Regions from separate parts of the Homo sapiens genome. Here all the other regions are linked to region 2. Evidence: fine-mapped expression QTL. A gene starts in region 2. Each other region holds a variant in brackets. All regions are shown on one strand. Distances are from middle to middle.

What was found. PIP is the estimated chance that this variant, and not a neighbour inherited with it, causes the effect. A credible set is the group of variants that fine-mapping cannot tell apart.
Region 1: its variant is the best candidate, but not a certain one, in a credible set for the expression of FPR3 in whole blood (TOPMed, PIP 0.58).
Region 3: its variant is the best candidate, but not a certain one, in a credible set for the expression of FPR3 in whole blood (INTERVAL, PIP 0.67).

The regions. Positions count from the first base shown.
Region 1 is chr19:51,835,555-51,846,334 of GRCh38, reverse strand. It overlaps a transcript of ZNF577 not described here. Among named protein-coding and RNA genes, the nearest start is that of FPR3, 46 kb to the right of the region's middle. The variant G/A (reference allele first, on the strand shown) is at 5,687.
Region 2 is chr19:51,788,930-51,799,709 of GRCh38, reverse strand. FPR3 (formyl peptide receptor 3) reads right to left here and starts at 4,553. Exons shown (of 2, transcript NM_002030.5): 1 at 4,379-4,553.
Region 3 is chr19:51,752,827-51,762,202 of GRCh38, reverse strand. FPR2 (formyl peptide receptor 2) reads right to left here and starts at 1,023. Exons shown (of 2, transcript NM_001005738.2): 1 at 973-1,023. The variant A/G (reference allele first, on the strand shown) is at 7,437.

The sequences.
Region 1 (10,780 bases), 47 kb before region 2:
CAAATACGTATTAATAGATACTTGACAAAAGGTAGCTATTATTATGCAAATGTATACCTTTTATTTCTTATAGAGACAAGAACTCACTGTGTTATACAGGCTGGTCTCAAATAAAAATTTATTTGTTTTTAGAAATAAAAAATTAGCTGGGCATGGTGGACTAATTAGCTGGACACACATGTAGTCCCAACTACTCAGGAGGCTGAGGTGGGAGGATTGCTTGAGCTTGGGAGGTTGGGGCTGCAGTCAGCCATGACAGTGCCACTGCACTCCAGCCTGGACAACAGAGCAAGACTCTGTCTCAAAAAAAAAAAAATAGAACCACCATATAATGCAGCAATCCTACTACTGGGCACATATCGAAAGGAAATGAAATCAGCACTTTGCAGATATAGCTGCACTCCCATGTTCATTGCAGTGTTATTCACAATAGCCAAGAGAGGTAATCAACCTAGGTGTCCAACAACAATGAATGAAGAAAACGTGGCATATATACACAATGGAATACTCTTGAGCCACAAAAAAGAAGGAAATCCTGTCACTTGGTGACAACATAGATGAACTTGGAATACATTATGTTAAGTGAAATAAGCCTCACAGAGAAAGACAAATATTGCATGATCTCACTTATGTGTGAAATCTAAAATTATTGAATTCATAGAAATGGAGAGTAGAATGGTGGTTACCAAGGCTGGGGGAGGGAGAGGGTTGTGGAAATGTTGGTGAAAGAATAAAAAATTTCAGTTAGATAAGACATGAACTTTTATGTTTAAGAGATCTATTGTACAACATGGTGACTGTAGTAAATAACAAGGTATTGTATTATTTCTTTTCTTTTTTTTTTTGAGGCAGAGTTTTGCTCTTGTTGCCCAGGTTGGAGTGCAATGGTGCAATCTTCGCTGACCATAACCTCCACCTCCCGGGTTCAAGCGATTCTCCTGCCTCAGCCTCCCGGGTAGCTGGGATTACAGGCATACACCACCACGGATAATTTGGTATTTTTAGTAGTGACCGGGTTTCTCCATGTTGATCAGGCTGGTCTCAAACTCCGACCTCAGGTGATCCGCCTGCCTCTGCCTCCCAAAGTGCTGGGATTACAGGTGTGAGCCACCGTGCCCGGCCAAGTATTGTACTCTTGAAAATTGCTTAAGAGAATAGATTTCAAGTGTTCACACCACAAAAATATGGCAAGTATGTGAAGTAATACATATGTTAATTAGTTTGATTTAGCCATTCCACAGTATATACTTATTTCAAAACAACGTATTGTACTGATAAATACATACAATTTTATTTGTTAGGTATAGGAAATGAATTAATTTTAAAAAGAAAAGTCTTTTTATTTACGCGGACTTGCTCTTTATTATTTCTACTTTAAAACACATTTTTGTTTGAATTCATAGATGCTGACTTCTTAGAATGAGGCAGCTCCTGTAAAGGAAAAAAGTATATCTCATGTCCAGAAATTCATCTTTGTTGAGGATACCCTTGATGAGACATTATCAGAATTGCAGGACAAACAGATACTAAAAGTACTGGCCATCTTCTGAAAGCTCTTGAACATGACAAAGTTCCAAGTGAGGTGTTTATTTACTTCCCAGTAGATTTTTAGAAGTTTATAACCATATATGTAATCAAAGAGAAAAATGAATATAAGTACACTCTGGCTGGCAGGGATGTGGTTAGACTAGGAGACAGAATAAATGATCAAGAGTAGCCAGTTAGGAAGGGAGATCTATCTCCATGTCGTAGGGTCCTGAAAGGTGCTAATAATTAGACAATTGCCATATAAGTAGCAGGATCTAGAATTAAGTTGCAAACATTTTTGTGGCAGTACTGACAACCATCACAAGAGAATTTTTAAAAGTTACAAGATTTACTTTGTCCAGAAGGAGAAAGCACATAAAATCGTTGATATCAGTAAATATTTCCTGGGCATCCAGTGTGAAGAAATGTCTCTGATGGATCTTCCTCTTCCTCTTCAGTTTTTGTGTGCCAGCATATGGACCCAGTGAACAGTAATCTTTAAGGAAATGTGGGAGATATAAAAGGCACAGCTAGGAAACTTAAAATCTCTTCTTTATAAAAAGAACATAATAGTGCTTAAACAAGGGTTATTGTGCAGATTATTATGTTAATATATGTAAAATTTGTAGAATGATACATAGCACATAGTAAGAAGTCTGTTTTTCTTTATGAGTATCATCATTTAATTTGTAGCACAATTTCCAAAATGCAATTCTGACCGTAACTTACTTATGTAAAAAAAAAAAAAAAAAAAAAAGTGTAGTGGCTATCGAGTATCTTAAGGAAATGTGTACCCTTTGCTCCAAGACATGTTCCTGCTTTTCAAATGGGCATTTCTTCTCTTCAGCTTCTCCTGTCTTAATGAACTATTTGCATTTCTTTGAACGCAGAATGGTATTTAATACAGATACATATGTTGCCCCCTTCCAAGGAAGCCCCCATTTCTTCCACTTCTTCCTTTAGAACGCACTACTAATCATGCTACCAGCTTGTCTACCTCTTCAGAACAATTATGGCCTTACCTAATTGTGCTCACATATTAGCTTGAGCATACTTCTGTCTTAGTCCTTGCTAATCCATAATACCATGCAATACATAGGCTTTCTGCATAGGACTGTATTTGCTACTCTGTGCAAGATCAGAAACACTTGAAGGAAGGACTAACCTTTATTGTTTTTATTGTAATATGTATAATGAATTACATTAAATGCTCCTAAGGTGGGTTACAGATGGTTTTTAGGTAGTTTAAAGGTTTAAAAGACACTTTACATCGGGCAAATGAATGAAAGAGTAAACAAGTGAATGAAGAATGCACAAAGAAAAGATAGTTTTTAATGTATTCCACTCACAAAGTGCAAACCAAAACTAGGCACAGGAAAATCTTCGTTTGTGAATCTTTGTGGTAAAGATAAAGAGAATAATGTCCTACGAGTCTTATAGACTGAATTTTATTATATTAACTCCAGAATTTAAAAGGATTATGTTATTATAGGGTTTATCATCATTCAATGATGTGGCTGTTGACTTCACCTGGGAGGAGTGGAATCTATTAGACCCTGTTCAGAAGAACCTCTACCAGGATGTGATGTTGGAAAATTACAACAACCTAGTGTCACTGGGTAAAGACAACTTTCCTAAATATCTCACTGTAAGCCGATTAATTGCCTTTTTTTCTATTGCCACAATTTGTGGGTACTCTGATATCCTCAATGATTTTGGACTTTGACTTTTAGAACTTTTTTTACTTTATAATCGTACAGTGACCATATGTAATTTCACTTTCCAAATGAAAGGTTTCTGTTCTGCTGAGATGTATACTGTGCATTTCCTGAAACAGAACTTTTTCTCACAAGCTCTAATGCTGCTCAGATTCTCTGTGATTACCTCTTGACAGGTTGTCAAGCTACCAAGCCAGAAGCAATATTCCAGTTGGGGAAAGAAGAACAAGGAATAGTAGAGAGAGAATTCCCAAGTTGGTGCAGTCCAGGTGAGTGAAACCAATGCGATGGGAGTTAGTGGAACCAAAGTACTAGTTGGCCATTGATGGGTTGGCACCCTTGTTATTTTAATACATTTTCTCATGGTCTGTGAACCTTTAAGGGTGACTTAGAGTATAAGTGAAAAGAGGTCTTCAATATGAACAATTTCTCCTCCTCTTACTATCTGTCATAGTCCACTTGTGCTGCTATAACAAAATACTTGAGACAGGGTAATTTATAAATAATTGAAATTTATTTCTCACAGTTCTGCAGGCTGGGAAGTCCAAGATCAGGGTACCAGTATCTGGTATCTGCTGAGGGCCTTTTTGCAGCATCCTCACATGGCAGATAATAGAACGGCAAGTAAGGATGAATGTTGGGTTCTCATATGGCAGGAGAGCAAAAAGTAGCAAACCCACTCCCACAAGGCCTTTTTATCATGGCATTAACTTGCTCATGAGGTGGAGCCCTCATGACCTAGACACCTCCCATTAGGCCCCACTTCCCTGTCACTGCTGCACTGAGGATTAACTTTCTAGCAGATGAGTTTTGGGGGACACATCAGACCATAGCACTATATTTCTATGTATGACTCATAGGAGATGTGCCTCTCTTTCTCCCTCTGGTTGAGATTCTTGCCTATTTGGCCCTTGCCTTTTTGCTTAGTCACTTTTCTTTTGCAGCCTATTAGATACAACCACCCTTCACCTCCTACCAATATTTATAGACCTCTTCTAGTATGCTTTCAAATATTCCTAGAATCTTTTCCAAGTTTGATGACACCTGTGTCCTTCAAGCCTATTATATATTTCTTTTATTGAATGTCTCAGACTTACACTGTGTATCTGCAGATCACTTTCTGAATTTTTCTTGTATATGAACTTGAGATTCCATCCCTCTCCATTTCATGATAATGGTAGAATTCATTGTTTTTTGTTTGTTATTCTCTAGAACTAATGTGGCAAGCTTATGATTGGCATCAGAAAGATTCAACTGATTCTCCTGCCTCAGCCTCCCAAGTAGGTGGGATTACAGGTGCCTGCCACCATGCCTGGCTAATTTTTGTATTTTTAGTACAGATGAGGTTTCACCATGTTGGCCAGCCTGGCCTCAAACTCCTGACCCCAGGTGATCCACCCGCCTTGGCCCCCCAAAGTGCTGAGATTACAGGCATGAGCCACCGCATCGGGCCTAATATTTTCTATCTATAGATTTTTTTTCTTGAGTTTTAGGTGTCCATGTCACTGCCAGTACTGTGGCAGTGCAGTTTCAACAGTAGAACTAGCAAGACCATGCTAGAAAAACTAGAAAAACGGAAAAAATAAAATAAAATAGAGATCCCCACAACACACTTTTTGGCTCATGTGGATTCATTTTCTCTGTTTTCTGGCCATGAAGGCTGGTTTTTCTTAGTGTCCTTGCTCTTCACCTCAGCAGCGAAATTTCTGTTAGGTTTTGAAGGGAAGGCAAGGGTTAAAGAAAGACATGGAGTGGTGGCTCTACAGCAAATGCAGGCTTTATGTCCAGCATAAGACCTGCAGAAGTGAGGAAACAGCCTAATGCCAGTGCCCACCGCTTATAGGCTGGGGCAATTTATAGGCCTGGGTGAGAGGGGCCTGGGGGGACATGTTCCCAGGATGAGGCGATTCCCGCGGAAAGTGGTGTTCCTTGCACTTTCTCCCAGCAGAATATGATAAGAGGCAGGATGTTTCTCACAGCCCGAACCCCCTGTGGAATGTTTCACTTTGATCAGGTTTTGTGAAATGGTGGGGGGCTTCCAAAATGGTGCAGTTTGGACTAACAATTTCCTAATTTGTCTTACCCTTAGGTCAAAGGCAGGAGATATAGACAGAAAAAAAATGAGGGAACTTACTCTGTGCATTGCTTGGTTTTCAACTCTATACTTTATTCTCCAATCTCTTTGCAATTATTCATTTTAAAAGTTCTCAAGTAGTTTTTATTAGTTTTTTTTCAAAAGTTTTAACTCTAACCAGTGGGAGTGATAAACTAGGGGGCTTACTTAATCATGGCTGGCACCATACATTACATGTATTTATTTTTAAGGGATAAAACATCCTTGTATTCCTGGGAACCTGATCTTGAAGTTCATTCTTTTCATATAATGCTAGATTTGATTGCTAATAATTTCTTCATGACTTTTACATCTATTTCACATGACT[G/A]TTCAGAATACACATGATCTTTCTGAAGTACAACTAATATTCTCTTGGAATGGGTTGTGGTTGTCAGTGTCTGCTCCACAACCAGTTTGGCCCAGTTCTTACCCCTCAAGGTCTCTCTCCACAATCCCACACCCAAATGTACCCAGGTGGCTTCCCCCTTACTACCTGAGCTCCTCCAGACCCAATTCTGGTTTCCTAAGACTTCTCTCGACAAACACATTCCCAGAATCCACCCTCTGCCTGCTCCCACTTCCTTGCTCCACTGCCTAGTCTTTGATCAACAGATCCCAAAACTTTTTCAAATATGGCTGCGCCTTACCTGCTGCTTTAAGGGCCTATGGGGCTAAATAGGTGCAGCCATCTTCTGCTTAGGTCTTGTCTGTGATTGGCTTAGGGCTGTTGCTAGATTTGAAGTAGACAGGTGAGAACGCTGAATGTTGTTCCTGAGAATGCACAACGCTGCTGGTAGCAGCTGGGGAAGTGGTGAAAAGGACAGTAGAAGATCAGCTGCATTGCCTCTTTCCTTTCTAGCACGATGGAATTTAGTCGCCAGAAAATGGCCATCTCGCTATCTGTAAGAAGCATCTTCCAAGACTGCTGCTTCCATGTGCACGCCTGGTTTCAAAGTCTGTAGACATCTTGTGTTCCGCGAAGGTGCTACTGAGTCTGCACAAGAGCGTGACTACGGCAGTGAGTGAAGAGGTTACGGAAACCTGCTAGTCCTCAAGCGAATGTTTGTGCGACTCCAGCTGTAGGGTGAGTTTCCCAGCGCTGTTGGGGTCCTTGACCGGATGCGACCAGCATGGGGTACTTGTGGAGGTTTGCGGTGTAAGAAGGCTTCAGGGAATGGTCAGTGGAATCTGAAGCTGGGGGTTAGCCACTGAGGGCTTCTGTGGTCTGGATTGGAGCATCCTCAGCGTCGAGTGGAAGTCGGTGTCTGGGGAACCAGGAAAAGCGAGCAAGCGATGCGGAGTTGGGGGCCATTATGGCTATCGGTGATGGGAAGGGCTGGGGAAGGAGGTACTTCATTGCTTCAGATGCCAGGGATTTGGGTGCTGTACTAAGTACCCAACCATATTTCCCAACATTTCATACTGAAACCTTTCAAGTACACTGAAGGAATAGCAACATGGTGGTCACCTGTGTACCCATCACCTAGATTCAGCAATTATTAAAATTGTGTCATAAATACTTGGTATATGTGTATGGGTATGTGTGTGTAATTTCTTCTTATTATTATTATGTTTAATCATTAGAGAAAGAGTCTTGCTCTGTCACCCAGGCTGGAGTGCAGAGGGGTGATCATAGCTTACTGCAGCCTCAACCTCCTGGGCTCAAGTGATCCTCCTGTCTCGGCCTGCTGAGTAACTAGGACTAAAGGCATGCTCAACCACGCCTGGCTAACATAATTTATTTCTTGATGAATCCTTTGAAATAACATTTTAGTCCTGATTCTTTATGCCGATTTTGCTATTTACTGTCTGCATGACTTTGGGCAAGGTATTGAAATGCTGTAAGTTTTACTGTTAGGAAAAAATGATGGTATCTCCTTTGCAAATTTCTTTTGAAGATTATTGGAATGGTGTGCCTGAAATGCTAGCAAAGTGCCTGGTTTATAGTAGATAATTGAGAAATGTTCTTTTATTATTATTCAAATATATACCTTTCTGTGGCAATTTTAATTATCTAATTAACTTTTCCTTTTCTGCTTTCATATAGTTCGTTTTCCTATATGAATTTATCTTTGAGTACATATTTGAAAACTTCTGAGGATTTTAAATAAAGATCTCCTTACAACAATTATTTATTACAAAAATTGTTACATGCTTGTAAATAAAAAACCAGGCAGTAATAGTAAAAGCATCTACAATTTACCATCTATACCAAACTTATCTTTTGTACTATGTTATTAAATTGAACTGCATAGTATGGATATTTCATTTTCTTAAATACATAAAGCAGATCAGGTTAAACGCATATTTAAACTTTTAAATTAAATTTAAAATTAAATTCTATTTAATTTAATATAAATTTATATATATTTATGTTTATACTTATATATAAATATTTATATAATTATATAATAAATATAAAAATTTAGTTTCTTTTTTTAACCCTCTTATACCAGGGAGAATGGCTATTTTAAAAAAAAATTTTTTATTATACTTTAAGTTCTAGGGTACATGTGCACAACGAATAATTTAGTTTCTAATTAAACATTTAAATGCATATTTAACCATTGGCTTTTTTTGCTTAATAAAGGTAATGTTTGATAATATGCTAATGACAGTCTTTCATTTCTGTCCCATCTTTGCATCAATCGTGTATTTGCCTAATCATTCCAATACTCCCACCCCGCTAAAAATTTCCATCTAGAATTGTGTATGTGATTTCCTTGATTTTTAGAAATATGCACTTATATGTGGATACCTAAAGAACTCAATATTTAGATTTTTAAGTTTTATAAATAGTATTATAATATTTGTATTTGTTCTCTGTTGCTATGTAGAAATGACTACAAATTTAGCAGTGTGAAACAACACTCATGTTTTAGCTCATAGCTCTGTAGGTCAGGCATCTGAATGCGTTTGGCTGAATGTTCTGCATAGGATCTCAAGGTCAAAATCAAACCAAGGTGTCATCTGGGCTGGGTTTTTATCTGAAGATGGGGGAAGAAGCTGGCTCCAAGCTCAGTCAGGTGGTTGGCATAAATCAGTTCCTTTGCACTTCTGTAATAAATGCAACTTAGTCATAGTACAATATTTTTCTATATATTTTGGGATATGGTTTGCTAATATTTTATTTAGGATTTTTGTAGCTATACTTATAAATGAAAATGGACTATAAATATTATCATGTAACCATCATCTGAAAATAGATATTTATATTGACTCCAAAGTTTTTTTGTGCCCCTTTGCAATTATTGATCCCCTTTCCCCACCTCCTGTTCCCTGACAGCCACTCACCTCATTTCTGTTACTATAGTTATTTGTAATCTAGAACGTCACACATATGGAATTATATAAGAGATAGTTTTTTGTGTCTGACTTTGTGCACTTAGCATAATGCTTTTGAGATGCATTCATGTTGTGAACAAATGTGAATTTGAAAGAGCCAGTCTTTTGGGATGGATCCTGTATGGTTACTTGGGCTTAAATTTAAAATAGAACCTACCAGCCATTTGCTGTCTAGAGGTCATACAGGTACTCTAAGTCCCCTCAAAACTCACACCTTTTAATTTTGGGGCTTGGAAACCAACCAATCAGAGCTCACCTGAAGCAACCAATCAGAGTTCACCTTCCCTGGCCAATCAGCGCTCAGCTGTATCAACCAATCAGGACTGAGCTGTGTTAACCAATAAGAACTAAGTAAGTTTCACTCTTTCTTGGCATCAACATAGGTGATAGCAACATAGGTGATAGGGAACCTGGGCAGAAACTTTTGCTTTAAAACCGGAGCCTTCCCTCTGTTCCCTGGAACACACCTTCATTTTACAACAAAGATTGTGTTTCTGTAGTTTGCAGCCTTTTGCTGGAATAAAGTCTGTTTCCTTCACATTCCTTTTCAGATAATTTTTTCTTTTCTTTTCTTTTTTTTTTTTTTTTGAGACAGAGTCTCACTCTGTCACCCAGGCTGGGGTGCAGTGGCGCCCTCTGGGCTCACTGCAACCTCTGCCTCCTGGGTTCAAGCAGTTCTCCTGCCTCTGCCTCCCAAGTAGCTGGGATTACAGGTGCGTGCCACCATGCCCGTATAATTTTTGTATTTTTAGTAGAGACTGGATTTCACCATGTTGCCTATGCTGGTCTTGAACTCCTGACCTCAGGTGATCCACCCGCCGCAGCCTCCCAAAGTGCTGGTATTACAGGCGTGAGCTACTGCACCCAGCCCTTTTCAGGAACTTTTGTTCACAATGTTGTTGCATTTATTAGCAATTCCTTTTTAACTCTAACATTCCATCATACAGATATGCTATAGTGTATCCACTCACCAGTTGACAGACATCTGAGTTACTTCCAGGTTTGACTTTTATGAATAAAATCTCAATGAATGTTCATCTGAAAATGTTCGTGTGGAAACAACAACAGAACTGGTAATTCCATTAAAACGTAAGCAAAGGACATGAATAGACGTTTTTCAGAAGAAGACATAGAAATGGCCAACAGGTACATTAAAAAAGCCAAACATCACAAATCGTCAGAGAAATGCAAATCAAAACCACAATGAGATATTATCTTACCCCCGTCAGAATATCTATTTCAAAAAGTGTAAAACATAAGTACATTTATTTGAATGGTAAGATTTTATGATGATTTCACACTGTTTTTACCACCTTAAGATTTAATGAAGTGTCTGACAATAAAGGCAAAAAAACCTTATTATACTAGTCAGATACTCCAGAAATACTACATACAGAGATTTTTGAAGAGTAGAAATTAAATTACTTGGCTTCATTTTGGTTTCACTGCAAATTTCCACATGATGAGTAATCATTAGAAACAAAGGTTTTTATTATTGTTTTCAAGAACTAGGTATTTTTTTCTTCCATTTATTGCCATGACATCAATGTGAGAAAAACTTTTTAAAACCACTAATGTGTAAAGTATGTGTCACTTTAAAATTGCATGATCCAAACATTACTTAAGATATTGATTTCAAGGTCGGGTGCGGTGGCTCACGCCTGTAATCCCAGCACTTTGGGAGGCCAAGGCAGGTGGATCACCTGAGGTCAGTAGTTCAAGACCAGCCTGACCAACATGGTGAAACCCCATCTCTACTAAAAATACAAAAATTAGCTGGGCGTGGTGGCAGGCATCTGTGATTCGAGCTACTCAGGAGGCTGAGACAGGAGAATTGCTTGAACCAGGGAGGCGGAGGTTGCAGTGAGCCGAGATCGTGCCATTGCACTCCAGCCTGGGGAACAGAGCAAGACTGTCTCAAAAAAAAAGATACTGATTTCAGTTATGTCTGGCCATGTCAGTGAAAACATAACTTTTCTGAAATATTGGTTAAAATAAAAAATTTATTAATATTAATTTTAACTTCAGTTCATAAAAATCACTTTATTCTTCAAGCACAATTTTTGTATTGAACAGA
Region 2 (10,780 bases):
TGCAGCTGCTGGGGAGCCTGGAGCCTCAAAGAGCCGTCCACGGTCACTGGAATTTCTGGAGAATCTCCAAGTTAACTGCTGAGGACAGCAGTACTAAGCTGCACGAAGCAGCAAAATGGAGCACCAGCAAGCAGTAGTGCCGTCTGGGCCAGACCGACTGGGCTGTCTGATGCAGGAAGTGCGTGAGTCATCCACACACACAGACATTGGGATTGTGTCCAAGACACAGCCAAAAGCCTGCCTGCTATGCCAGTAGTATTAAATGAAGCTCTTCAAGTTTCTCTATCAACTCAGCTGCTAGTGACCATCCTCAGCAGCCACCAGAGGTCAGGACAAAAGAACATCAAGAGGGGATCCAACTGCCCAGGTCGCTTTCGGGCAGCCTCACATCGTGGGTTGGATTGTGGGTGCGGCTTCAATGAGGCGACGACAGTGTTAAAGTTCGAGAGGTTTTAGTATTCACAGACCCCGGGAGGTACATGAGACATCTGGAGGCCACACTCAGAGGAGCAAGAGGACAGGCAGAAAGAGAGCTGACGGGGGTGGCAACTGGCAGTGGGAGTGGGGTGTGGCGCACTTCAAGTTCAGGGGCAAATGTCCGAATGGTTCCCTTTTTTCCTCTGTCACCCAGCTGGACTGCAGCGGTGTGATCTCGGCTCACTGCAACCTTCGCCTCCTGGGTTCAAGTAATTCTTCTGCCTCAGCCTCCCCAGTAGCTGGGCACCACCACCACGCCCGGCTAATTTTTTGTATTTTTAGTAGAGATGGGGTTTCACCATGTTGGCCAGGCTGTCTCGAACTCCTCGGCCTCCCAAAGTGCTGGGATTACAGGTGTGAGCCACCACGCCCAGCCAAGCTACAGCAATTTTCTATGATCATGAAAATCTGAGAATCTTCCCACCCTGGGCTATTTAGCCTCTTTAAGAATGATAGCAATTATGTAGCACTTGTTTACATCTAATACTCATAATAACACTGTGAGGCAGCCATCATCATCCCTTTTTTACTAGGGAGAATCCATGGCCCAGGGACTCCTGTAGTTTTTTCAGCATCATACCTAGCCAGTCAGTGGAGACAGGAAGATTTGTAAACCAGACCGAACAGAGCCACTACCTTTGCACGCTCAAGTGCTGCCATTGAAAGGCGTTCTTCCAAAATTACCAGGATAGGGTCCTGCCCTCGTATAATAAATTTTTTCTCCTATTTCTTTTACTCATTTCCTTCTTTTTTCCTATCATTATCAGTCACTTTCACTGAGGTCTTCCCAGGGACATTGTTTAGTGTAGCTCAGGGTTTCTCAGCTTTGACACCAATGGCATTTTGGGCTGGTTAATTCTTTGTTGTGGTGGACTGTTCTGTACACAGTAGGATGTTTAGCGGCACCCCTGGCCGCTATCCAGAGATGCCAGTAGCAACTCCCCATTCAGGAGTGACAACCAAAAGACATTGTCAAAGATCCCCTGGGAGGCAAAATACCTCCCACCCCCTCCCCCTGCCAGTTGGGTGTCACTGTAACAGTGTAAAGAGTACCAGGCTTTGGAGTCAGTTAGATCTCTACTCTGATCTTATCTCTGACACCTCGATGGTGTAAATTCTTGATCAGTGACATCTCTTTGAGCCCCCATTTTCCCCTCTGCAGAACTGAAATGGTTTTTTGATAAAGACTGATTTTCAGGGGAGGATTAAATAGAATAGACATGGACTGGAGGCTGAGGTGGGGGAATCGCTTGAACCCAGGAGGCAGAGGTTGCAGTGAGCTGAGATTGCACCACTACACTCCAGCTTGGCAACAGAGCGAGACTCCGTCTCAAAAAAAAAAAAAAAAAAAAAAAGAATAGACATGGAAATCATCTAGGATAGGTCGGTAAATCTGTAACAAATTAGAACTCTTAGCCCTCACCAGGCTGTGTGTTGTGTTGTGGGGTACAATCCCGAACCCTGCACTATGAAGCTCAGGGTCAGGACAAGAACGATGCTTATAGCAATAGTAGCTTCTACTTATGAACATTATCCACACACCAAGAGCTTCTCCCTTAACCCTCACAACTCCTCTCATAGGCTCTGTGGATGGGATGTGTTAATATGTGTAAGCACTCAACACACCCTGAGACACGGTGAATATTGATTAATGTTAGTTTTAATTTGTATAACCATTGTACAGACGAGAAAGTTAAGACTTAGATTGAGGTGGGATGTGGTGAGGGATAAAAGATCATTTTTTATACCAAAAAAATTGAAAATTGTATTTCTACTAGATCATTCTATCACATAATCACGCCCCCTCTCTTTCAAGAGAAACCTCCTTTGAAGCATATTTCTTTCCAGCTTCAACCCTATCTAGCCAAATGACCTCTCTGTAAGGTCTGTCTGTAAGACAGAATTTCCAGCCAAACATCCAAAGAGAATGTCTCTAATTCTTCCTTTTCCTTCTTCGCCTCAGCTGTTCTCCTTAATCCACTCCACATTGACTTCTGTCCTTAGCACTCCACCTAATGCATTTTCCCAAGGATGCTTATGACCCCCAGGCTGCCAAATCCAGTGAGTCCTTCTCAGTTTTTAAGACCTGATATCCCAATGACACAGGACCCATTGGATCACTTTCTCCCTTTTCAAACACATTTTTCCTATGCCATGAGATATATCCAAGAGATATGTGCACACAATACACTCTTGGTCGTCTCTACAGCTCGATTCTCTTCCTCTTTTTAGTCCAATTTACGGTGTTTTCTATTCTAAATTTGACTCTAAATGTTGGGGTATCTCACATTCTATAAATGATATCATCCAGTCTCTGGGATTAAACCATTATGCTGTCTTTTCATCTAAATTATCAGCCGTGGCCTCTCCCTGGCACTCAAGTCTGATAAAACCTCTCCCCGTGGGAGTCCCATAGACTCCAAACCTCACATGGTTTTACCAAACTGTTGATGTTCTCTGCCTCCCAGACCTGCCACTCTTCCAATATTCTGTATCTATTTGGAGATTAAATATTCAGTTGTTAAAGCTCCAGATCTAGAACTCACCTTTCATTTCTCTTTTCCTCACCACCCAACGCCATCCACGTCTTACTCATTCTATCTACAGAACATGCTGAATGCACAGCCAGAGCCATTGCCATCTCCACGACCGGTGTCCATGGCCCTGTCAGGCTTGGATATTTGCACAAGCCTTGCAAATAGCTTTTTCCTGGTCCTGCTGCCCCCTCCCCTAAGATCCATTCTCCAGACAGAAACCAAATGAGCTTTAAAAAGGTCCAATAAGATGGTGATGTTATTCGCAATACCTTCCGATGGCTTCCAGACTTCTAAGTTACCCTTATCTTAGGTTCCCTTATCCTAGGTTCCCTTATCCACTGCCACATGTGCCCTGTGCATCCCTCAGACCTCATCTCTGCACTCTCATCAGACACACTGGGCTCCACCCACTGGGCTCTAATTCCTTGAACTTGCAGCTCTTTGTCATCTCAGGGCTTCTGCTTTCTCTATTCCTTCTGCCTACCGTGCTCTTCGTCTTGAGCTTCCTGCACCTGGCTCATCCTGAATATTCATATTTCAGGTCAAATATTATTTCAGAGAGATCCCACCTCACCCACTCTGCAAAGCAGAATGCTCAGGTACAGCCTATCTCACCAGATACTTTTCTCCTTTATTTGTTTGTTCATTTATCTTCTCTCTTAAATACCCTCCACACTAGTACGTAAGCTCCACAGGACTATCAAGATCCTTCAATGCTACATCTCTACAATGCTACATGTCCAGTAGAAATATAATGTGTTAACTTTAGCTACATATGGGACTCAAAATTTTTTTGTAGCCACTGTTTTTAAAAAAGTAAAACACCTTTGGGGAAATTATTTTAGTAATAAATTTTATTTAATTACATATATGATAAAGAATTGGCCAGTCACATTGGCTCACGCCTGTAATCCCAGCACTTTGGGAGGCCGAGGTGGGCAGATCACGAGGTCAGGAGTTGAAGACCAGCCTGGCCAACATATTGAAACCCCGTCTCTACTAAAAATACAAAAAATTAGCCAGGCGTGGTGGCAGGTGCCTGTAATCCCAGCTACTCAGGAGGCTGAGGCAGGAGAATCGCTTGAACCTGGGAGGCAGAGGTTGCAGTGGGCTGAGATTGTGCCACTGCACTCCAGCCTGGGTGACAGCGCAAGACTCCATCAAAAAAAAAAAAAAAAAAAAAAAAAAAAAGAATGTTACTGGAACATGTAACCAAATTAAACACTGTTAATGAAATAGTTAACATTGTTTTCATACTAACGAAGTGGATTCTTCACTGGACTACGCTACTCCAGAGTTAGAAGGGCTCTGTCATATAGCAGGCATTTCAACAATAACTTTAAAATTTTCAGACCCCAACTTACCACCAGCTTAGATCCTTTTCCTGTGCCCAGTTCCTGGATTCCTGTGGAGCAACTCAGGCTCTAAGTACTTGTAAAAAGATGAAGTTATATGTTTGGTTTTAAGATCTTAATTGGCTTTGGTTATAAAGATGGAATCAGACAGCCTGTCATGCTATAAAACAAAATGAGTGTTTTGATAGTTAGAGCCAAGGAAGTTGGTTTTACAGGGATAGGAGGGCTAAAGAAAGCAGAAACAGAGAACAAAAACCTGATTGGTCATCTGGATGTTGCATTTTTTTTGTGCAGCAGGAATAGAGAGACAGCAATAAGGAACAACTGATTGATTGAAGTCAAGTTACCACAGATTGCTTTTTTTTTTTTTTTGTAAAGATGAAAGCAGACAGAACTTCATGTTCATGCCCACTGAAACTGGCCTGTTTTAGGAATTTGTCCATTTTCTCTCTCTCCTGATTTCTCAAAAGTTCAGATACATTAGTTTTGGTTTGGTGATGTGGAGTTTTAGTATGACTGACTCCATTTGGTTTGCTTTGTCGAACCTAGTACAATAGGTCAGTCCAAACCACTTACTTGCTGTTTTTATAGAACAGGCTTCAGCAGAGACTTAGTTGAAGGACACGGGGACAATGGAGCTGGAATCAATCCAGTGACACAAACTCAGGGTTTCTTACCATTCCCAGAAGACACCTTGGAGATGTTCTCAGACGATTTATCTTGGAAACTTATGTGTCTGAATGTTCCTTCACCTCTAGCCTTCTGTGGGAGACTGGAGTTCATCCTTCCAAATATCAAAGGCCAAGAAATCTGAGAGTCCAGGCCCTTTCTTTTCAGAGATTCAGGAAAATGAAAGAAACAATTACCAAGGTGAGAAGAATGAGAGGAAAAACAATAAAAAAACAAAGATGCACGGTGAAACAAAAACTCGATTCTCTACTTTCACAATCCTTCTGACCAAATATACTTTTTCTCTACACCAAGAAATTCTCCAATTCTCTGGGGACACCACCTGGGCCACCTGCAATTAAAAATTCGGTTATGATGCTGTCTACCTGGATTCAGCTCAGATCCGAAAAGCTAAAGGGCTCACTCCCACAAACTGTTCTCAGATCAGATCAGACATCTGTTGCAAGTCCCAGGTGGCTACTTGTACTTCTGACTGACAGGCTATAAATTGGGTGTTCCAATGACACCAATAAATTGCTAGAATGGCACACAGAACTCAGGAAAGCACTTTGTTTGCATCTGTTGCTTTATATAAGGAATATACCTCAGGAATAGTCCATTGGAAAGAGGCATATGGCAGGTATATGGCAGGGAAGGGGTTGGGTGGTGCATGGAGCTTCCATGCTCTCTTCAGGCAGCCACTCTCCCAGCACTCCTGAGTGTTCACCAATGTGGAAGCTCATCAAATCTCATTGTTCAAGAGTTTTTATGGAACTCAATCTCCAGTCCCTGCCTCCCCTTCCTGGAGATCAGTAGGTGGGGCTGACAGCTCCAACCCTCTAATCCCTTGGTCTTTCTGGTGACCAGTCCCATCCTAAGGCCATGATCTCCTTAGCATAAACTCAGCTATGATCAAAAGGGGCTGTTTATGAATAACAAATAATACTCCTATCACTCAGGGAATTCCAAGGGTTTTAAGAGCCCTGTGCCAGAAATCTGTGACAAAATCAAATATGCTTTGAGGTATTTCATACCTCAGAGTTACAAAGAGAAGCAGTAACTAGGAGCATGTAGAGAGGTAAGGAAGGTAAATGAGAGACACTGTACACTCCACACCATTGCCGAGATTAACCCCCTAACCTTCTGCCCCTAGGGAGATGCTCTATGGACTACTGATCTAAGGAGATGGGCTCTTTCTGAGTTTTTAAACACCATCAGAATGTTGTTCTCAAGCCCAAGGAATAGAACCATGAAAAACAGTGGAGAGCCACAAAACAAGAGTCAACTATTTTCTATTTTCTCTCTGATTCACTGGATGTTTTCAGTGATAAGGTAGAGTAAACCAATGAAGCACATAAGCCATGGAGAAATTTATTATTAAAAAAAGTTTTGGAAGGGGATAGATCTGGAGTTTGAACAAAAATTGAGTTTAATGTCACCCTTCCACTCCATCATCATATTGGTTTTCTTCTAGGGCTTTCTTGAAAGTGACCACAGAATGGCTGCCACTGTTCTGGACATTGCATCAACAGGCCCTCCCGAGCCAGAATCATGAGACAGGCAGAAAATGTGACTCATTCACATGCCTCTTCCATTTTATTACAGAGGGAAACCTTGTCCAGAGTCTCTTCAGGACCTCTCCTTGTCTTTCATTGCCAGAGCATGCCATCTCTAGACCAATCAATGGCCAAGAAATAACAAAAATACCGATACATAAAAATAAAGGTCAGGGACAGTGGCTCACGCCTGTAATGCCAGAATTTGGGGAGGCCAAGACAGGAAGATTGCTTGAGCTCAGGAGTTCAAGACCAGCCTGGGCAACATAGTGAGACCCCATCTCTAAAACCAAAAAAATATTAGCTGGGTGTGGTGGTGTGGACCTGTAGTTCCAGCTACTCAGGAGGTGAAGTGGGAGGACTGCTTTGTCAGGGAAGTTGAGGCTGCAGTGAGCCATGATGATGCCACTGCCCTCGAGCCTGGGCAATGAGCAATACCTTACCTCAAAAAAAAAAAAAAAAAAAAAAAAGACAAGTTGCTCATATTGGCTTAGGCCAATCATGATTGCTTTCCTAGGACAGTGGCACATTGCTACCTGCCACCTGATTAAAATGGAATTTACTTATCAGTATAATAAAGGGTGGTGGGTATTGCATGAGGCCTCTGAAGAGGTGCTCCCTTGCTGGCTCCTGCAGACATAGAGCTTAAACAGACATGTGCCTTACCCTGGAGATGCCGACTACCCAGGTAAAGAGGTGACAGCGTCACTCTACTGTGACTAAGCATAGTCTTATGCACCCTTTGTGCACAATGGTGTCCTCTGCCATTTCCCTAAGCAGTCACAGTAGAGTGGGGGTATATAGTGATAGACAGATGCCTGGTTCATTATGAGATTTCCCAAAAGGAACAACTAACTGAGACTGACAGGGTCCAGGGTCACTTCCAAGTGCAATGCAGATAACATCCGGGATGAATCTTAAAGACTCAGATAAAGAAGCAAAAAAAAATACATTCCAGGCAGAGGAGAGTGAAAGCACGCAGGAAAGGGTCAAAAAATAGCAGGTTACCTGCGGTTATTGGAGCATAGATGGTGAGGCAGACAGCAATAAACACTGAGTGTGTAGCAAGTGGCAGAAGCCATCTGTTGGAGGGTCCTGAATGCTACAAGAAGGACTTGGAATTTCTTCATAATAACATGAATAACCATTTAAGCAGGACAGTGACTTGTCAGGTGTGTGCTTCTGAAAAATATTGTTCTGTAGTCCTGCAAAGGGATGCCTTTGAGAATGTTTCTAATTGGAGACAGAGATATTAGAATGGAGAATGTTGCCAGAAATCAAGGTAAGGTTCTTGAAGAGCTACCCAGGGCAGGAATAGTGTGATCAAGAAGAGGCGTAGCTTAGAGACAGATTGTCCAGGCTGAGTAGACCAGCCTTGGAGACTGGATGGCTGTGGGGAATGGGGAAGAATGAGTGCTCTTTATAAATTCCACATTCCTAAAGTTACTATTGCTGCATCTGCTACAGTCTGAATGTTTGTTTCTCCCCTCCCCAGATTTGTATGGGAAATCCTAACCCCCTAGGTTATGGTATTAAAAGGCGGGACCATAGGGAGGAGATTAGAGCGTGATGGTTGCACCCTCATAAATAGGATTAGTGCCTTTGTAAGAAAGCCTTGAGGGAGCTTGTCTGTCTTCCACCATGTGAGGACATATGGAAGGCGCTGTCTATGAGTAATGGGCCCTCATCAGACATGGAATCTGTTGGCATCCTAACCTTGGTTTTTCTTTTTTTATTCTTTCCTTTTTTTTTTTGAGAGAAAGTCTTGCTTTGTCACCCAGGCTGGAGTGCAGCAGTGCAATCTCGTCTCACTGCAACCTCCACCTCCTGAGTTCAAGGGATTCTCGTGCCTCAGCCTCTCAAGCAGCTGGGATTACAGGAATGTGCCACCATGCCTGGCTAATTTTTTTTTTTTTTTCTGTTAAAGATGGGATTTTGCCATGTTGCCCAGGCTGTTCTCAAACTCCTGGCCTCAAGCGATCCCAAACTGCTGAGATTATGGTGGCATGAGCCACTGTGCCCAGCCTTAATGTTGGTTTTTCTATCCTCCAGTACTGTGAGTAATAAATTTATGTGGATCATAACTTACTCTAATAGATTTTGTTATAGCAGGTCAAATGGGCTAAAAGACTAATTTGTACCAAGAAGTAGAGGTATTATAATTAGAAATACCTAAAAATGTGGAAATGGCTTTGGAACTGGGTAATGTGAGAGGCTGGAAGAGTTTGTGAGTGCTAGAAAAAACTCTACATTTCCATGAATGTAACGTTGAGGGTGATTCTGCTACAGGCTCAGAAGAAGATTGCAATAATGATCAGAGTATTGGTAGAAATGTAGAAGTAGGTCATTCTGATGAGATCTCAGATGAAAATGAGAAATATTATTGGAAACTGTAGGAAAGGACAGCCTCATTATAAAGTGGCAAAGAACTTGGCTGAATTGTGTCTGTGTCCTTGTGCTTTGTGGAAGGTAGAACTTCTGAGTGATGGAATAAGATGTTTGGTGGAAGTTACATCTAAGCAAAGCATTGAGGGTGTGGCATGGCTTCTCTTGATTGCTTATAGTAAAATGCAGGAAAAGAGTTACATAAAAAATGGCAATTATAGGCCAGGCACGGTGGCTCACTCCTGTAATCCCAGCACTTTGGGAGACCGAGGCAGGTGGATCATGAGGTCAGGAGATCGAGACCAGCCTGGCCAACATAGTGAAACTCTGTCTCTACTAAAAATACAAAAATGAGCCGGGTGTGGTGGTGAACACCTGTAATCCCAGCTACTCAGAGGCTGAGGCAAGAGAATTGCTTGAACCTGGGAGGTAGAGTTTGCAGTGGGCCGAGATCGCGCCACTGCGCACCCCAGCCTGGGTGATAGAGTAAGACTCCATCTCAAAAAAAAAAAAAAAAAAAAGGCAATTATAATCAAAAAGGAAGTAGAACCTAAAGATTTGGAAAATTCTCAGCCTGTAAAAAGTGCAAAAGTATGTTCAGGGGAGAACACCAATGGTGTGGGTAAGTGAACATTTGATACGGAGATTAGCATGGATAGAAGCCAGATAGTATTCATCAAGACAATGGAAGAATGACTCTGAAGGCATCTCACAGATCTTCACATCTTCCCTGCCCATCACAGGCACAGAATGCAAACAATTTCAAGGTTTTGGCGGCAAACAATTTCAAGATTGTATTCCCCATATTCCAGTATAGCACTCCTTGGCCTTCCAAGCTTTGGCTCAAGCACGCCAGACTGCGGCTCAGGCCACTTCTCTGGATGGCACAGGCTGTAAGCCAAGGCTACATCTGTGTGGTGTCATCTCCACCAGGGCACAGAGTGCATGAGCTGCGGGGTTGTGGCTGCCTCCCCTTAGATTTTGAAGGAAGGTGCTACCTGGAGTCGCAGGCATGCAACTCAGGGAGAGGGCTGTCTCCAGAGACTCTCTGTCTCTCCACAGAGAGTCCCTCCCCCAATATGATGGCATTAAGAGAATGCCCAGTACAGCAGCGGGGATGGGGCCACCACAGAGTGCCTCCACTAGGGCAATGTCCAGTGGAACCCTGGGGGTGAGGCTGCCCCTGAGACCTCAGAACAGTGTAGCCACCTGTGTGCAATACCACCCTTGGGGAGCTACAGCACCTGACTTCAGCCCCTGAGAGCTGCTGCATCAGCTACACCCAGCAAAGCCATGATGGTGGTTCTGCCCAGAGCTGTTGTGGCCCAACCCCAGCTCCAATGTGTCCAAAAAGCAGAACATGGAGTCAAAGAACATTATACTGAGGCCTTAAAATGTATTTGCCACATTGTTTTGGACTTCCTCAGGATCTGGTTCCCCTTTCTTCCTTCCTATTTCTCCTTTTTGATATGGGAATGTCAATCCTAGATTGTCCCACCACTATATTTTCGAAAGCACGTAATTGTCTGATTTAACAGGCTTACAGCTGAAGAGGAATTTGCCTCAGGATGAATCATACTTTGAGTCTCACCCATGTCTGACTGAGACGATCCTTAGATGATTTTTGCCCCATTGGAGTGAAAGTTCATTTTAAGACTCTTATTCTGTTTACTTGCCTCTAGGCATTTTTGTTAATCATGGGCCATTTCGTAGCAAGAAAGAAAACCTACTTATGTTTTGGTTTTTTGTTTTTTTTTTTTTTTTTTTTAGATGGAGTCTTGATCTGTCAACCAGGTTGGAA
Region 3 (9,376 bases), 37 kb after region 2:
GAGGCAGGAGAATCGCTTGACCCTGAGAGGCAGAGTTTGCAGTGAGCCGAGACTGCGCCACTGCACTTCAGCCTGGGCGACAGAGCAAGATTCTGTCTCAAAAAAAAAAAAAAAAAAGGTCCAATAAAATGGTGATGCTATTTTCAACACCTTCTAATGGCTTCCAAACTTCTAACTTATCCTTATCTTAAGTTCCCTCAAGTACCCCTGGACCTGCCCTGTGCATTCCTCAGACCTCATCTCTGCACTCTCGTGGGACACACTGGGCTCCACCCATAACGGGCTCTGATTCCTTGAACATGCAGCTCATTGTCATCTCGGGGCTTCTGCCTTCTCTGTTCCTTCTGCCTACCATGCTCTTCCTCTTAAGCTCCTCACACTTGGCTCCTTCACATGTTTATTTATCTTTGAGTTAGAGTTTCACTCTTCTTGCCCAGGCTGGAGTGCAATGGCACGATATCGGCTCACTGCAACCTCGGCCTCCTAGGTTCAAGCGATTCTCCTGCCTCAGCCTCCTGAGTAGCTGGGATTACAGGCTCCCACCACTACGCCTGGCTAGTTTGTTGTTTGCATTTTTAGTAGAGACAGGGTAATGCAAGCCCTAAATGCCAGCCACACACGTGACTTACAACTTTCTAGTAGCCATGTTAAAAAAGTAAAATCATTGGGAGAAATTAATTATAATAATATGTTTCATTTAACCCCGCAAATAAAAAAAATCATTGGAACACGTTACCAAAATGAAAGTTATTAACGAGATAAATTGTATTATTTTGATCATACTAATGATTAAACTACACTAAGTATATTTTACACTTAAGCACATTTCAGATCAAGATAGAAACATAGGCACTCAAAAGCCACCTGTGGCAAGTGGATGCTCCATTACAGCACTGCTCTAGAATTTAGGAGGTGTTTGTCAGAGAGCAGGAGTTCCATTGATAAATTTTAAATTGTCAGTCCCCAACTTACCAGCAGCTAAGCTCCTTTTCCTGTGTGCTTCTTGGCTTCCTGTGGAGCAACACCGGCTCTAAGGGCTTTCGCGGAGACTACTGAATGATGGGGGAGGGACAATGGAGCTGGAGCCAATCCCCTAACAGAAACTCAGGATTTCTTATAATTTTCAGAAGACACCTTGGGTATGTTGTCAGCGGACTCTTCTTAGAAACCAATGTGTCTGAATGTTCCTTCACCTCTAGCCTTCTGTGAGAGACTGGAGTTCATGCTTCCAAATGTCAAGGGTCAAGGAATCTGAATGTCCAGCCCTTCCTTCTTCAGAGTTTCATGAAAATGAAAGAAACAATTACTGAAGTGGGAAGAGTTTCAGCCACGCAATCAAGCCCAAATATGATGATTAAGTCAAACTCAATTCTCGACTTATGCAGTACTTCTGGCATCAAATGTGTGGGTCTTTTCCATATCAAGCAATTCTCCAGTTCTCTGGGGACACCACTGGGTATCTCACAATTCAATTCAGCTCCGACGCTGTCTACCTGGAGTTAGTGTCAGATCCCACAAGTTAAAGGGCTCACTCTCCCAAAACTGTCCTCACTTCAGACACCAATCCAAGTCCCAGGTGGCCACCTGTACTTCTGACTGACTGGCTATAAATCGGGGGTGGGGGGATGTTTATAACCCCTTCCTCTGTTCTGATAATTTGTTAGAATGGCTCACAGAACTTAAGAAGGCACATTACTGGCTGGGCGCTGTGGCTCACACCTGTAATCCTAGCACTTTGGGAGGCCGAGGTGGGTGGATCACTTGAGGTCAGGAGTTGAAAACCATCCTAGCCAACATCATGAAACCCCACCTCTACTAAAAATACAAAAAAAATTAGCTGGGCGTGGTGGTGGGCACCTGTAATCCCAACTACTTGGTAGGCTGAGGCGGCAGAATCGCTTGAACCTGGGAGGCGGAGGTTACAGTGAGCCGAGATTGTGCCACTAAACTCCAGCCTGGGCAACAGAGCGAGACTCCATCTAAAAAAAAAAAGAAAAGAAAAGAAAAGAAGAAGGCACATTACCTACATTTACTCGTTTGTTCTCAATGGAGTTCACATATCGAGAAATAAAAGGTGGTAGGTATTGTATAGGTGCAGGTCTCTAAAGAGGTGCTTCCTTGCTGGCTGCTGGAGACATAGAGATCAATCAGACATGGGCTCTGCGGACCACCTGAATAGAGAGGTGAGAATGCAGTGCTTAGTTACAATAGGGTGGGGGCACGTAGTGATAGACAGATGCCTGGCTCCTTGTGAGGTCCTCTAAAAGGAACCACTAACTCAGATTCACGGATCTAGAGTCAATATCCGGAGGAGGGAACATGTAGGCTGAGTCTTAAAGACTCAGATAAAGGAGAAAAAATAATGCATTCTTGTCAGAGGGGAGTAAAAATACCCACGAAAGGGGTCACAAAAAAGCAGGTTACTTTTGTTTACCAGAGCATAGATGATAAGGCAGACAGCAATAAGCATTAAGTATGTAGAGGGCGGCAGAGGCAATTTCTTGGTTGGTCTTGAATGCTGTAAAAAGAACTTAGAATTTCTTCTTAAAATTTCTTTCTTATATATATATATATTTTTATTATTATACTTTAAGTTTTAGGGTACATGTGCACAATGTGCAGGTTAGTTACATATGTATACATGTGCCATGCTGGTGTGCTGCACCCATTAACTCGTCATTTAGCATTAGGTATATCTCCCAATGCTATCCCTCCCCCCTCCCCCCACCCCACAACAGTCCCCAGAGTGTGATGTTCCCCTTCCTGTGTCCATGTTTCCTCATTGTTCAATTCCCATCTATGAGTGAGAACATGCGGTGTTTGGTTTTTTGTCCTTGTGATAGTTTACTGAGAATGATGATTTCCAATTTCATCCATGTCCCTACAAAGGACATGAACTCATCATTTTTTATGGCTGCATAGTATTCCATGGTGTATATGTGCCACATTTTCTTAATCCAGTCTATCATTGTTGGACATTTGGGTTGGTTCCAAGTCTTTGCTATTGTGAATAGTGCTGCAATAAACATACGTGTGCATGTGTCTTTACAGCAGCATGATTTATAGTCCTTTGGGTATATACCCAGTAATGGGATGGCTGGGTCAAATGGTATTTCTAGTTCTAGATCCCTGAGGAATCACCACACTGACTTCCACAATGGTTGAACTAGTTTACAGTCCCACCAACAGTGTAAAAGTGTTCCTATTTCTCCCCTTTCCAGCACCTGTTTTTTCCTGACTTTTTAATGATTGCCATTCTAACTGGTGTGAGATGGTATCTCATTGTGGTTTTGATTTGCATTTCTCTGATGGCCAGTGATGATGAGCATTTTTTCATGTGTCTTTTGGCTGCATAAATGTCTTCTTTTGAGAAGTGTCTGTTCATATCCTTTGCCCACTTTTTGATAGAGTTTTTTGTTTTTTTCTTGTAAATTTGTTTGAGTTCATTGTAGATTCTGGATATTAGCCGTTTGTCAGATGAGTAGGTTGTGAAAACTTTTTCCCATTTTGTAGGTTGCCTGTTCACTCTGATGGTAGTTTCTTTTGCTGTGCAGAAGCTCTTTAGTTTAATTAGATCCCATTTGTCAATTTTGGCTTTTGTTGCCATTGCTTTTGGTGTTTTAGACATGAAGTCCTTGCCCATGCCTATGTCCTGAATGGTAATGCCTAGGTTTTCTTCTAGGGTTTTTATGGTTTTAGGTCTAACATTTAAGTCTTTAATCCATCTTGAATTAATTTTTGTATAAGGTGTAAGGAAGGGATCCAGTTTCAGCTTTCTACATATGGCTAGCCAGTTTTCCCAGCACCATTTATTAAATAGGGAATCCTTTCCCCATTGCTTGTTTTTCTCAGGTTTGTCAAAGATCAGATAGTTGTAGATATGCGGCGTTATTTCTGAGGGCTCTGTTCTGTTCCATTGATCTATATCTCTGTTTTGGTACCAGTACCATGCTGTTTTGGTTACTGTAGCCTTGTAGTATAGTTTGAAGTCAGGTAGCGTGATGCCTCCAGCTTTGTTCTTTTGGCTTAGGATTGACTTGGCAATGCGGGCTCTTTTTTGGTTCCATATGAACTTTAAAGTAGTTTTTTCCAATTCTGTGAAGAAAGTCATTGGTAGCTTGATGGGGATGGCAGTGAATCTGTAAATTACCTTGGGCAGTATGGCCATTTTCACGATATTGATTCTTCCTACCCATGAGCATGGAATGTTCTTCCATTTGTTTGTGTCCTCTTTTATTTCATTGAGCAGTGGTTTGTAGTTCTCCTTGAAGAGGTCCTTCACGTCCCTTGTAAGTTGGATTCCTAAGTATTTTATTCTCTTTGAAGCAATTGTGAATGAGAGTTCACTCATGATTTGGCTCTCTGTTTGTCTGTTATTGGTGTATAAGAATGCTTGTGATTTTTGTACATTGATTTTGTATCCTGAGACTTTGCTGAAGTTGCTTATCAGCTTAAGGAGATTTTGGGCTGAGACAATGGGGTTTTCTAGATATACCATCATGTCATCTGCAGACAGGGACAATTTGACTTCCTCTTTTCCTAATTGAATACCCTTTATTTCCTTCTCCTGCCTAATTGCCCTGGCCAGAACTTCTAACACTATGTTGAATAGGAGTGGTGAGAGAGGACATCCCTGTCTTGTGCCAGTTTTCAAAGGGAATGCTTCTAGTTTTTGCCCATTCAGTATGATATTGGCTGTGGGTTTGTCATAGATAGCTCTTATTATTTTGAGATACGTCCCATCAATACCCAATTTATTGAGAGTTTTTAGCATGAAGGGTTGTTGAATTTTGTCAAAGGCCTTTTCTGCATCTATTGAGATAATCATGTGGTTTTTGTCTTTGGTTCTGTTTATATGCTGGATTACATTTATTGATTTGCGTATATTGAACCAGCCTTGCATCCCAGGGATGAAGCCCACTTGGTCGTGGTGGATAAGCTTTTTGATGTGCTGCTGGATTTGGTTTGTCAGTATTTTATTGAGGATTTTTGCAGCAATGTTCATCAAGGATATTGGTCTAAAAAAAAATTTCTTTCTTACAATTTCTTCTGCTTAAAAGCTATTTAAGCAGGAGAGTGACTTGTCAGGTGTGTGCTTCCAGAAAACATTGCTCTAGAGTCCCCCTGCAAAGGGATGGCTCTGAGAATGCTCCCAGTTGGAGGCAGAGATCTTAAAGGGTAAGAAGTTGCCAGAGATCAAGGTGAACTTGTCGAATAATTGCCTGTGCTGGAGTAGTGTGCTAGAGAGGAGGTGTAGTTTAGGGAGAGATTTCCAGGCTTGGTAGACTGAGCTTGGAGACCAAATGGCTCTGGAGAATGAGGAAGCATGAAGGGTCTTTATGAAGCCCACATTCATAATTCATAATTGCTGTATAACCACCCAAATCATAGCATGTAAAACAACCATTTCATTACGTTCATGGATTATGTGGGTTGGGAATTAGGATAAGGCACAGAGATGCTTGTCTCTGCCACCCAAAACTCAAAGGTCTGGGGGGTGACTAGAAGACTGTGAATTGGAGTCATCTAGAGCTCCTTCATTCACATGTCAGATGCCTGGGTTGGAATGACTCAAATGCTGAACTAGGCTGGTATTGCACCAAGTGCCTACAGGCAGCCTTTCCAGCATGGTGGTCTCAGAGGAATCAAAGTCCCAGGACAATGGCTGCCTTCCTCCAGAACACGTGTCCCAGGAGAACCAGAAGATGCTTCCTAGCCTTTTTTGACCTAGCCTTGAAAGCTACGTGGAAGTCATTTCTACCACGTTCTTTGGTCAAAGTAGTCCCAACCCTACCCAGGTTCCAGGGGAGAGGCGATACAATATGCCTGCCTTCCTGTCAGTGGAAGGAGTGTCCAAGAATATTGTGGCCATTTTCTTCAGAACTGTTGCACCAAGGTAACTGCGTGGATTTGGGGGCTGTCATTGAGACGAGAGTCAATGAAAAGAAGCAGAGTGTTTAGTTTGTTAGAGCTGCCATAACAAAATACCATTGGCTGGGTGGCTACAACAATAGAAATATATTTTCTCACAGTTTTATCAGCTGGAAGTTTAAGATCAAGGTGTCAGCAGGGTTGATTCCTCCTGAGTCCTCTCTCCTTGGCTTGCAGATACCGCCTCCTCCTCATGTTTTCACACAGTTTTCCCTCTATGCCTGTCTGTGTCTGGATCTCCTCTTTTCATAAGGATATCAGTCATATTGAGTTGGGGCCCACCCTAATGACCTCAGTTTCAGCTAATTACCTCTTTAAAGGTTGTATCCCCAAATACAGTCACATTCTGACATGCTGGGGTGTATTGGTCAATTCTCATGCTGCTAATAATGACATACCCAAGACTGGGTAATTTATAAAGGGAAGAGGTTTAATGGACTCACAGTTCCATGTGGCTGGGGAGGCCTCGCAATCATTGCGGAAGGCGAAGGAAGAACAAAGGGACATCTTACATGGCAGCAGGCAAAAGAGAATGAGAACCAAGTGAAAGGGGAAACCCCTCATAAAATCGTCAGATCTCGTGAGACATATTCACTACCATGAGAACATTATGGGGGAAATCGTCCCCATGAAACAACTATCTCCCACCTGGTTCCTCCCACAACACGTGGGAATTATGGGAGCTACAATTCAAGATGAGATCAGGGTTGGGACACAGCCAAACCATATCATGGGGTGAGGGCTTCAACCTAAGAATTTGAAGGGGAATGTGACACAATTTAGTCCTTAACAGAGTTGTGGGAGAAGGTGAGGAGAGCAAAGGCTGCAGATGAGTTTGAAAGGAAACAGGAACCCAAAATGATGTGTCTGAACATCAAGGGCAGGTCTGAGCTAGAGACAGGGGTCTGGTGAATGTTAGCTGAGGTGTGGTTCAAGTTTTAAGCATGGATGGGTTCACCGCAGAGAACGTGAAACAGCAGATAGAGAGGTTTATGTAATTACTAAGATATTGATAATACTTATTGCACTGGAATTCATGCCAAGTGCTTTGTATCACTGATCTTATTTGTTCTGCTCCAGAAAACACCTCTGTAAGTATCATTGCTCTCAATTCACAGGTGAAGTGTCTGGGACCCAGTGCAGTTAAATCAGGGGTCAAATCTAGCCACCGCTTGTTTTTGTATGGCCTGAGAGCCAAGAATGGCTTTAATATTTCTTACCGGCTAAAGAAAATCAAATGAAGGGTATTTTGTGCCATGCAAAACTTATATGAAGTCCAATTGTCGTGTTTTAAATAAAGTTTTATTGACATACAGTCATGCTCCTCATTTACAACTTTGCTTGTGGCTGTTTTCAGGCTACAACAGCAGAGCCAAGGAGTTGTGATGGAGACCCTATGGCCTGCCAAATGAAATATATTGACCATCTGGCTCTTCATAGGAAATGTTTGTGGCCCAGTGCAGTGGTTCCGTCCTGTAATCCCAGCACTTTGGGAGGCCAAGGCA[A/G]GTGATTGTTTGAGGTCAGGAGTTCAAGACCAGCCTGGTCAACGTGGCAAAACCATATCTCTACTTAAAAAATACAAAAATTAGCCAGGCGTGGTGGCGGGCACCTGTAATCCCAGCTACTGGAGAGGCTGAGGCAGGGGAATCACTTGAACCTAGGAGGCAAAACTGCAGTGAGCCAAGATCACACCACCGTACTCCAGCCTGGGTGACACAGTGAGACTCTGTCTCAAAAAAAAAAAGTTGGGGGAAATGTTTGAGACCCCTGGATTAGCTGGCTTGTCCGGAGCTAGTGAACAGTAGTCCTGGGATTCTAGTCCAGGCAATCTGGCTTTACCACCTCAGTCCAGTGCTTTACTGGGAGGCTGTGCTGCTCGCCGAGGCCATTTCTCATGTTTCAGTTACCAGAAGAGTCAGGGACTTTTGCAGCATAGGCAGGAATACTCCCATTCCGGTCAACCCTAAGACATCTTCCCTTTTAGCCTTACGCAAACACAGAAGTGGAAGTCCATTTTAAGACTTTCGCTTTTTTCTTCACCATAGTCACTTTGGAACACACACTTGGCTCTATTTTTGCCCAACCTAGTGTGCTAATCACAGGCCATTTGGTAGCCAGGAAGAAAACCTACTTATGTTTTAGAAAAGAGGGCTCATGGGAAACAGGTAGGGGTGTCCCAGGACCCCCGTTTTAGGAAGAACAGTCAGACTTCAAAAGACCTACAAATTTTTCTGGCAATTACTCTCTGTGGAGTCCCTTGTCTCTTGTTTTCTCTTGACATTTGGGCCCTTCTCCTCTGTGCATAATGATGTCCTCTGCCATTCCCTTTATTTTAATCCCCTTACAAAGTGTTGGCTTCCATGTGACTCCTAGGCACGTCTTCATTTGTTACCCTTCATACCTTGGGAATCTTCTAAAATGCATCTGTTGTTATGATCCCAAGAAAATGTTTATAAAATACAAACACAAATGTTTATAAAGTACAAATGAACATATCACCCTTCTGATTAAAGATCTTCAGTGATTCTCCATCTCATCCCCATCCTCCTGGTGTGGGATGCTGGAGTGTAGCAGTCCCCAACATTTTTGGCACCAGGGACCAGTTTCATAAAAAACAATTTCTCCATGGGGTGGCGGGGTAGATGGTTTCAGGATGATTTAAGCACATTGCATTTATTGTAGACTTTATTTCTATTATTATTATTACATTGTAATACACAATGAAATAATTATACAACTCACAATGATGTAGAATCCGTGGGAGCCCTGAGCTTGCTTTCCCGCAACTAGACAGTCCCATCTGGGAGTGATGGGAGACAGTGACAGATCATCAGGCATTAGATTCTCATAAGGAGCACACAACCCAGATCCCTGGCATGCACAGTTCACAGTAGGGTTCACACTGTTATGAGAATCTAATGCCGCCACTAATCTGACAGGAGGCAGAGCTCAGGCAGTAATGCCAGCAATGGGGAGTGGCTATAAATACAGATGAAGCTTCTCTTGCTCACCTGCCAGTCACCTGCTGTGCAGCCCACTTCCTAACAGGCCACAGACCGGTATCGGTCTGTGTATTGGTCTATGGCCTGGAGGTTGGGGACCCCTGCTGTAATGTGAAGTCAGGAGCTGTGGTAGCTTTCTTGGAGCCATGAAGTGGCAATCCCCAGGAAAAAAAGTCACCATATTAGGGATAAAAAAGAGAAAAGATTAAAATGAATGTAGTTCTTGATGATATTTTCCAGATATAACCTAACCTAGTATTACCCTCTTGCAAAATTCTTGTAAAGTAAACCATAAATTTCGTCTTGGTTCTAAGCTAAGCTTGTCCAGCCCATGGCCTAAGATGGCTTTGAATGCAGCCCAACACAAATTCATAAACTTTCTTAAAACATTATCAGATTTTTGGGGGATTTTTTTTTTTTTTTTTTTTTTTAGCTCATCAGGT